2 linked regions of the Homo sapiens genome follow. The protein of the gene in region 1 purifies or fractionates together with the protein of each later gene. This does not show direct contact. Each region holds a gene or a part of one and is shown on either strand. Other genes may lie near its edges.

Region 1 (5,203 bases):
AAAGAAGCCTGAAATGTAGAAATTGCCTTAGATATGACTCTGTTCATTCTTAATACTGCAAGTGCTCTTATTCTTGGCTGGTAGCTTGGCAGTGACCAGCACTGTTAGAGCAATCTTCTCCAATCTTTGGCCTCTTTTTCTGGCCAGGAATGATATATGTAGTAGAAACATATAATGAGAGTTTAGCCTTCATTGTTAATTCTTACTGTAATTTTGGTCTGGAATCCAGAAAGTATAGTTGCCATTCTTTAAGACTTCCAATATCATCCATTATTAATGCATTTAACAAGTGTTTATTGAGTGCCTATGAAGTGTGCAATCAGTGATGGGTAAAACATTACCCTTGCCATCAAAGAGCTTATGGCTAGTCAGACATGTAAACAATTAAAACACGGTGTGGTAAGTGCTGCTGTAGAAGTATGTGTACGTTGTTAATGGAAGCACAGGGGAGGCGACCTAAGTCAGTTCAGAGGAATTAGGAAAGGCTTCACAGGCCAGGCATGGTGGCTCACCCCTGTAATCCCAGCACTTTGGGAGGCCAAGGCGGATGGATCACTAGGTCAGGAGTTCGAAACCAGCCTGGTCAAGATGGTGAAACCTCATCTCTACTAAAAATACAAAAATTAGCCGGGCGTGGTGGTGCATGTCTGTAATCCCAGCTACTCGGGAGGCTGAGGCAGGAGACTCGCCTGAACCCGGGAGGCTGAGGTTGCAGTGAGCTCAGATCCTGCCAGTGCACTCTAGCCTGGGTAACAGAGCAAGACTCCGTCTCAAAAAAAAAAAAAAAAGGAAAGGCTTCACAGAGGAAGGGATGCTTGAACTGTGAGTCCTAAGGCAGGTGGAGAAGAGCTCTCCAGGAAAACAGTGGAAAAGGGGCATCCCTGGCAAGACCATTTACCATTCCCTGTTTAAAATAGGAATTCAGTGCTTCAGACTGCTTTAGATGGCTTTGTCTGTCCTGAAGCTGTGTATGAAAGAAATACTTAGCTGAAGTTGAATGACCCTTGAATGGTCTGGCAGCAAAATGACTGGTGCATATCTTTAGCACCCAAGAGGAGTAGCTGTCTTTGTGCGCCCAGGACCCTAGAGATGCCAGACTCCCCACACTCCTTAGTAAAAGGTCTCTACCTGAGATTATTCTAAAAGCCTGCCTTGTGATTACTCTAGTGTATTAAGCTCTGTGAGTTGCTCTAACATGTGGTGGCTGTGAGTAATCATGATAACAGGAAATTTGTGATTCATGGATAGCTAATTCTCAAATAAAATTTGAAGACAAAAAGGTACATGCCCCTTTTGGGGGGCAAAGAAGGAAATGTCAGAAAGCTTTTATGCAGCTCTTACTTCAGATGGCCTCCTGCTTTGAATTATACTGTTCTTTCTATCTAAAGTAGCCTTCTCCTTTACACCAAATTGTACACTTATTTTTAGGTCCAATTCTGTATTTATCAGAGCCACAGGGCTTTCTGTGACTAGTCCCCCACCTTGAAACCAATATCTTATTGTTATTTTATGTATGTCTTCATTTCCTAAGGATCGGGGTCATGCTCTTTATTTCCTTTACATCACACCGTTTAGGACAGTGTAAGATAGGCAGTAAGTACTAAAAAAAATAAATGAGACTAATTTAAAGATGTCAAATATAGTGCGGGATAAACTTGGACATCCAGGTGAATAAAATAATCAGGAGGAATTTATGACCTCTTTAGAAGAGAGATCAAAACTACGATTAATAAAATGGTGACAAAGAAGTAGAGATGCAGCCTAATTAGGTGTGAAGAACATAAGAGAGAAGAAGTCCACGTATGCAGAAAGCAGTGCTCAGTAAAGGGTTCTTAATTCAGGGGAGACCTAGTTAAAAATATGGCTAAAAGCTGGTGTGAGAGAGCCAGTGGAGGTGGAGATTTAAGTTACATCAAAGAGTAGATGAGTGCTGAGATTTTTATTAAGCTTTTTCAGAGGGAGGGGAGTCTCTTCAGTGGAGTACATTGGAAAAGACTGATTTAAAGTTTTATGCTAAATCAGCTTAGTCTTGGTGAAGTGTGACTTGAAGTTATCAGTAAATACCCAAGTTCAAATCCTGTAGACTTGTCATTTCCTGCCTCTCATCTCTAAGTTGGGCTGTGTTTTCCTTAAGAAGCAAATGTATGTGTTCTTGATAGCTAACCCTCCTCCTCTGAAAGTTTCTGAAAGATTTTTATGTGGAGGGAGCTGGGCTTGTTTTCAAGGACAAAGGATAGAAATGGACCAAAGCCCAGCAGGCAAGATTTAAGTTAGGGTTACAAAAGGATTGTCTGTGCTGGAGGGTTGCTAGATTTTTAAAAAGTAACTGAAGGAGGTATTGAGATCGTCCTCCTCCTTAAGAGCCATTAATCTGATCTAGGTTATATTATTCCTTCTGGAAACAATGGGTAAGATGACTTTCTTCTAGTTGTGTTTTTTTAATTGTAAATCTAATTCTTCTTTCTCTATTTGTTTCCCCAAGTTTTTTTCCTGTATAGTTGTGTGGTGGTACTTCGAGCCTTTTGAGAAGTGACTCTAAGAAGAGTTTGGTTGGGTGGGTTTCATGAAGGAGAAAAAGTGGCAATACTCTAATTTCAGCTTTTGCTCAGTGTTTGAACGCATATATGATTTGGTATTGGGGAAACATACTCATTTTTTTCGAGACGGAGTCTTGCTCTGTTGCCCAGGCTGGAGTACAGTGGCGTGATCTCGGCTCACTGCAAACTCTGCCTCCCGGGTTCAAGCGATTCTCCTGCCTCAGCCTCCTGAGTAGCTGGGATTACAGGCGCGTGCCACCACGCCGGGCTAATTTTTTTATTTTTAGTAGAAACGGTGTTTCACCATGTTGGTCAGGCTGGTCTCAAACTCCTGACCTCGTGATCTGCCTGCCTCAGCCTCCCAAAGTGCTGGGATTACAGGTATGAGCCACCACGCCCGGCCAGTTATTTTTGTTTTTTGTAGAGACAGAGTCTTACGATGTTGCTCAGGCTGGTCTCAAACTTCTGGCCTCAAGGGCTCCTCCTGCCACAGCCTCCCAAAGTGCTGGGATTACAGGCATGAGCCACCATGCCCAGCCCCTGCCTTTCTGAGTAGCTGGGACTAGTGGTGCTTGCCTCTGCGCCAGGCTCCAGTCATTTCTTAGTGTTCAATACACACGCTCTGAGTTCTCCACATAGAATAGATGACTAAGAGTGGATGTCCCTGTGGCCAGCAGCTATGCCCCTCACCAGCCTTTGTGAATGACCTTCAAAGCTCTTGTTGAATTTTCTGTCTCTGAGGTCTCTTGAAATAAGGCTTGTGAAGTGTCTTGAGATCCTCACAACAGGTGGTATACAATGAAAAATGTCAATGTTCTCCTAGTTTTGTTTCTTTGATCACCATTTCATCCCTCCTTCCGGTGCCTGCAGCTGCCCTCAGCCTTCAAAGTGATTCTCACTGGAGAGAGAGGATGCTTCTCTCCCTGGACCCAACACCTCTTCATTTACTGTCTAAAAATAGCCCAGCCTCTTCAGGCTGGGAGTTGTCTTTCGAAACCTCCTCTCACCTACTTGGCCTCACTCATTTCAAAGTGGAAGAGCACTACTGCTTTCCAAGTTTTTCTCTCTTTCAGTTTGCAATTTAGGGCAGGTTCCCTTCTTGGATTTGAGTCAATGTCTTATTTCCTGCTGGTATTTTGAATGTCTTTCATTTGTCACCTGTGTATTTTCATTTCTTGACTGATGAAAAAACAGGTAGAAATGAGGCTTCAGCCTGACATCTGTAACCTCCCCACCAACCCTCTGAGTCTGAAGTTGGGCTTGATGCTGTTATCACTGACCCTTTGTTTGGAGAAAACAGTCCAAGGTTTGAAATTGGGGCTATGTTTATTCAAACTAAGCTTCTCTGAGCACATGGTCTGTCCCACTCATCCTCAGAGTATCCGTTGGTTTTACTTCATGTTCAGACTGCAGTGTTGTTAAAGAAATAAAGCTACAGTGTTTTCAGAAGGATTTGTTATATTATACTTCATGTTCCCACTGCTCCAGGCTAAGCGTCTCCTCTGGGCTCCATTGTTTAATGCAGGACAAAGCCAGGTTTTCTGGCAGCTTCCTTTTCATAGCAATTCTCAGTAGAGGTATAGAATGAGACCTGCCTACCTTCTTGGGTGTTTATTACCCCATTTGTGGATTTTACTTTAACTTCTGTTACCTTAAAAAAAAAAAAAAAAGTTGGTGAGGAAGGCAAGAAATAAAAGTGAGTATGACAGCCAGACTGGGTAGTGTGGATTTTTAGCGTTGGTATTTTTGAATGTCCAGATTTTCCAAATCCTTCCTTCCTTCCTTTCAACAGTTATAGCAACAGGTCCAGTGCTTCTTCATTGGTCACATTATTTTCCTCTGGTTTTGAAGGACACTTAACAGAAGAATGAGTTTACAGTATGGATAGCTCCTCCTAGATTTCAAGGGAGTAAATTCCCCCCTCTCATTTTGTCACAATGTTTGCAATGCTTTTTTTTTGCTTTTTTTTTTTTCCTTTTTTCTTTTTTGAGACAGAGTCTCACTCTGTCACCTAGGCTGAAGTGCAGTGGCGTGATCTCAGCTCACTGCAACCTCCACCTCCCGGGTTCAAGTGATTCTCTTGCCTCAGCCTCCCGAGTAGCTGGGATTACAGGCATGTGCCACCATGCCTGGCTACTTTTTGTTTTTTCAGTAGAGACAGGATTTCAACATGTTGGCCAGGCTGGTCTCGAACTCCTGACCTCAAGTGATCTGCCTGCCTCGGCCTCCAAAAGTGTGCAATGCTTTTTTTGGTTGCTTCCCTATTTGGTAAAACAATGCTGTGGGTTTTTTTGTTTTTTTTTTTTTCTTGCTGGGATTTTAAAGTTTATATGCCTTATCTCTCCTCCTAAAACTGTAATGAAGCTAAAGATATTTTCCTTTCCCTGCTATGCCGGGCATGGTGGTGCACACCTATAGCCCCAGCATCTTAGGAGGCTGAGGCGGGATGATTGCTCGAGCCCAGGAGTTTGAGGCTGCAGTGAGCTATGATGGCACCACTGTATTCCAGCCTGGGCAACAGAGTGAGACCCCATCTTAAAAACAAACAAAAACTGTCTGCCCCTCTGTTTATAATTGAGATTTTAATTTACTTGAAGATCTTAGAACAACCCTTTGTGAAACCATATGGCTGATTTTTTTTTTTCCACTTTGTCAAATGTTCTTTT
Region 2 (4,351 bases), on another chromosome or scaffold:
CCGGGAGGCAGAGGTTGCAGTGAGCTGACATTGTGCCACTGCACTCCAGCCTAGGTGACAGAGAGAGACTCCATCTCAAAACAAAAAACAAAAAACAAAAAAATTAGCCGGGCATGGTGGCACACGTCTGTGGTTCCAGATGCTTGGGAGGCTGAGGTAGGAGAATCACTTGAACCTGGGAGGCAGAGGTTGCAGTGAGCCGAGATCATGCCACTACACTCCAGCCTGGGTGACAGAGTGAGACTCTGTATGAAAAAAAAAAAAAAGAAAGAAAGAAAAGAAAAGAAAACAATGGACACTGAGTGAAGAGCCAGGCCAGAACATGTGGCTCACAAACCATCAGTGTGGTCTCAGATAAATGAGTTTAACTCCTGGACCTCTGCTGGCTGAAGTACATATATAAAATAAGACAGCTGGCTTGGTCATACATCAACTTGCTGCTGGTTCCGCACATGGATAGAGTGACACTAAGCTCTTGTCTTCCTTCCCTCTTTGCCCCCTCCCTCCTGGTAGGCCTGTGCCTCAGCCATCCCCCTGGTTTTCATCAGGCCTGCTCAGCACTGAGGGGCCCAGGGGTAGGAGACTACTGAGTCCAAATATAGACCAGCAAACTGCAGAAGTTTTGTGATCACAAAACCCTACCAAGAAAAAAAAAAATTAACCAAGCACTTGCAATGTATTTGTATCTTATATATATATAATATATATATATGCTGTATTTTATATAGATACATAGAGTACATATATATGTCTACTAGAGGAAACTATTGTATATATCATACACCCAAAATTTAAAAGGCTGAGTTAAAAAAAAAAAAAAAAAACTAGATGGAAATTCTAATAGCTTCCTCCCACCCGTAAATGTATCATCGTGGGCACCAAAGAGGTAGATACTGATCTGGGAGTCTGCTGGCCTCAAGAGGGATGGGATGGGCTGGAGGAAGAGAGGGGCACGTGGTGAGGGTGCTCCTCCCAGGGCTTAGGGAAGGGAAGGGCTGGGCCTTGGTCTCCACCATGGGATGGGGTAGTGCTGGCCGTTGGGAAGGCAGGGAAAGGGATGCTGACTCGATTCTGCTCGTCTCTGCTCTAGAAGTGCCTAGATTTGAAGAGCTCACCTTATTCTTGATCTTCCTCCGAATTTTCTTCAGGGCCTTCTCCTCTGATTTTGACAGGGGCAATTTGGTGGGGATGGGATAGCCCTCAGCGATCAGGGTCCTCTTCTCCTCCTCTGTCAGGACCAGAGGGCCTGATCCCTGCAGTTTCTGTGCAGACCAAGGAGCAGAAAAGGGTCAAAGAAAAAGAACTGGGACCACTGAAGAATCACCTCCCAATGGGATGATGAGAATCTGTTACAATGTCTTACAGAAGGCTCTGAGACAAGGATGCCCCATCTGCTTTGGGTGACAGATGGGTATTTTGAAGGGCATGGGAAGATGGGGAAGACACCCCCATGTGAGTGTTATAACCTAGGGATTATAATTCAAGGGAAAGAATAAAGAAGCCTCCACCCATTATTTCCCGGGAAGCACCCTACTCGCTAAAACATGAAAAGAAAAAGCAGAGAAGTCATTTCCCACATCCCTAGAGATTTCCTGGCCTTGGAGTGATGAAGGATTCATTTGCAGCCCTGCTTTGTGCAAGAATTTTGTTGTTCTCCTTCTGAAAATGCAGTTTTATAAGGTGCTCTCTACACAACAGGAGTCAATTCTCTCCTCCACTTTTAGCTAAGAGTGCAGAGCACCCAGGGACACATCTGCAGACTCTTTCCACAGAAGCCTCTGGCTTCAGCAGTCTCAGAATGTCCATCAACAATGAAGACAAGAACAGTAGCACATCTCATGGAACCCACAGTAGAATGGCATGTTTATAATTAATCAAACAGAGTCCCTATTGCATTTTAGCTCCATACTAAATGCCATGGAGGACTCAAAACAAACCCTACCTCTCAAGCAGCTTGTGATCAAGACTGTGAGACTGAACTGATACCCATGAAAGGATAAGAGTAATTAAATGCTAAACTGTAATCTTAGCTGATATGGTTTGGCTCTGTGTCCCCACCCAAATCTCATTTTATAGCTCCCATAATTCCCACGTGTTGTGGGAGGGACCCAGTGGGAGATGACTGAATTATGGGGTGAGTCTTTCCCATGCTGCTTTTGTGAGAGTGAATGAATCTCACAAGATCTGATGGTTTTAAAAAACAGGAGTTGCACTGCACAAGCTCTCTCTTTGCCTGCTGCCATCCATGTAAGACATGACTTGCTCCTCCTCGCCTTCCACCATGATTGTGAGGTTTCCCTAGCCACGTGGAACTGTAAGTCCAATTAAACCTCTTTCTCTTGTAAATTGCCCAATCTCGGGTATGTCTTTATCAGCAGCATGAAAATGGACTAATACATTAGCTAAAGGTGTACTAAAAATTTGAAGTAAGAGAACACTACTATGAGTTGTGTGATCAGGAAACGTTTAGGGCAGGAGATGAGATTTGAATTGGGCCTCCTGAAAGAAAGGGGATGATTTACATAAGAGAGAGGAGTGCATTCTAAGCAAAAGGCAGTATTTTGAAAAGTCACTGAAGAAGCCACTGCCTAGTGTGGGTAAGGAGTTCTTGAAGCAGCGGAGGGTTGGATACCTGATAATGAGTAAAGGTGTCAGGGCTTGGTACCAACAAGTAACAGGGAAATACAACATAGTTGTTGGGCAAGCATCCGACATGGGGAAGAGTTCCTCCATAAACATGTAGAATGGACAGATCATAGTAGTACACACAGGTATATAGGATACAAGCTATTCTAGTAATCCAAGGAGTGAAGTCAGGTTCAAGGTGAAAAGGTGAAGAAAGAGTGGAAGGGTGAATTCCCTTGTCCTCAGTAACGATGAAATTTAAGAATGTGGTTGCAGATCTAGAACTTTCAGGGACAGAATCAATACAAATTTTCAAAGTTATGTTAATTAATGGACGGATGGTACTTACAGAATTTTAAAACATCTCATTTCATTTAAATTTTCTAGTTGTGAGATTGTGAATTCAAAATAGCTGATTATAATTTTTAAAATTTCATAGAAATCAATTCACTCCTAGAACAATAAGGAGTTAACGATCTATTCTTCTTTATTATGGTGTCCTCATGTATGGGAGGGATGAACGAGGGGTCTTGATGTCTGATCTGAGTTTCTGGGTTAAGAGTCATATGACACACAGAAAAGGCTTAAACTGTTTTTGACCTTTAGGCATCAAAGAAATTAATCTCAGAGTAATTTTTAAGTTCACCAAAAATTGCTTCTTTAAAATATAAAAGGTATTTCCTATGACATAGGTCACAAGGACCATTAAATTAATGCAAATATTTATGATAGAACTTTGAGGAGAAAAACCCCAAATTTTTATTCCTCATGTCTATAGCTCTGTAAAATAAACATATGAATAAAAACTGGAAGTGTGCATGTGAAAAGGAAGAGAATTGTGGTAGTAAAAGGTGAGATGTGCGGGCAGTTCCTAGAAAGTGTTCTTTAGGGTTGACATCACTCTGCTTTCGCCATTAAGCAGAAACTTCTTGACAAAAGTAAAAACCAAACAGCCTTGAGTGGTCCTGCTCTGGATACAGCCCCAGGGGAATGAATGGAGAGGGTTCCCTTTGGTCCAGGAATGCCCGCTGCATACTTACATGAGGAGCCGTGAGGAGAGGGGAGCTGGAGAGGGCGGAGGGGGCCCGGGGTGCAGCTCTGGAGGGGCTGTGGGTCTGAGGCAGGCTGAAGGGGTGCAGGCGTGGGTTGGGACTCAGGCTGCCCTCTGAGTCACTGCCGTGACTGCTCGGAGGGGTGGGCGGCAAATGCAGGTGGTCCACTGGGGCTGCAAAAAAGGAAGCACATCTCATCCATCCCAGAGCCACAAAGCAGGACACAACTGATTTGTGGCATAGCAAACTAAAGTGTGAGGGGCCTCCATGAGCTGACCTGGACAGATCTCCAAGGTGCAGAGCGTGGATATGGGAGTCCTCCTTTTGTATGAAAAAGGAGAGAAAGAGGATATAGACCCACATTTGCTTATACTGGCAGAAAGAAACACTGGAAGTGAATACAAGAAACCAATAAACGTGCGACCAGGGGCCAGGCAAGGTGGCTCATGGCTGTAATCCCAGCACTTTGGGAGGCTGAGGTGGGCAGATCACCTGAGGTCAGGAGTTTGTGACCAGCCTGACCAACATGGCGAAACCCCATCTCTACTAAAAATACAAAATTAGCCTGGCGTGGTGGCACGTGCCTATAATCCCAGCTGCTACTCAGGAGGCTGAGGCAGGAGAATCGCTTGAACCCAGGAGGCAGAGATTGCAGTGAGCCGAGATCATGCTAA

Evidence for each region.
Region 2: the proteins of MAPKBP1 (region 1) and CREB3L2 purify together in Homo sapiens (co-immunoprecipitation; one large-scale study listed by IntAct). This does not show direct contact.

Annotation. Positions count from the first base shown.
Region 1 is NC_000015.10:41,776,569-41,781,771, forward strand, and holds part of MAPKBP1 (mitogen-activated protein kinase-binding protein 1), read left to right. Parts: intron 1-5,203. UniProt on the Homo sapiens protein: Negative regulator of NOD2 function. It down-regulates NOD2-induced processes such as activation of NF-kappa-B signaling, IL8 secretion and antibacterial response. Involved in JNK signaling pathway.
Region 2 is NC_000007.14:137,904,587-137,908,937, forward strand, and holds part of CREB3L2 (cyclic AMP-responsive element-binding protein 3-like protein 2), read right to left. Parts: intron 3,851-4,351; coding exon 3,666-3,850; intron 1,263-3,665; coding exon 1,116-1,262; intron 1-1,115. UniProt on the Homo sapiens protein: Transcription factor involved in unfolded protein response (UPR).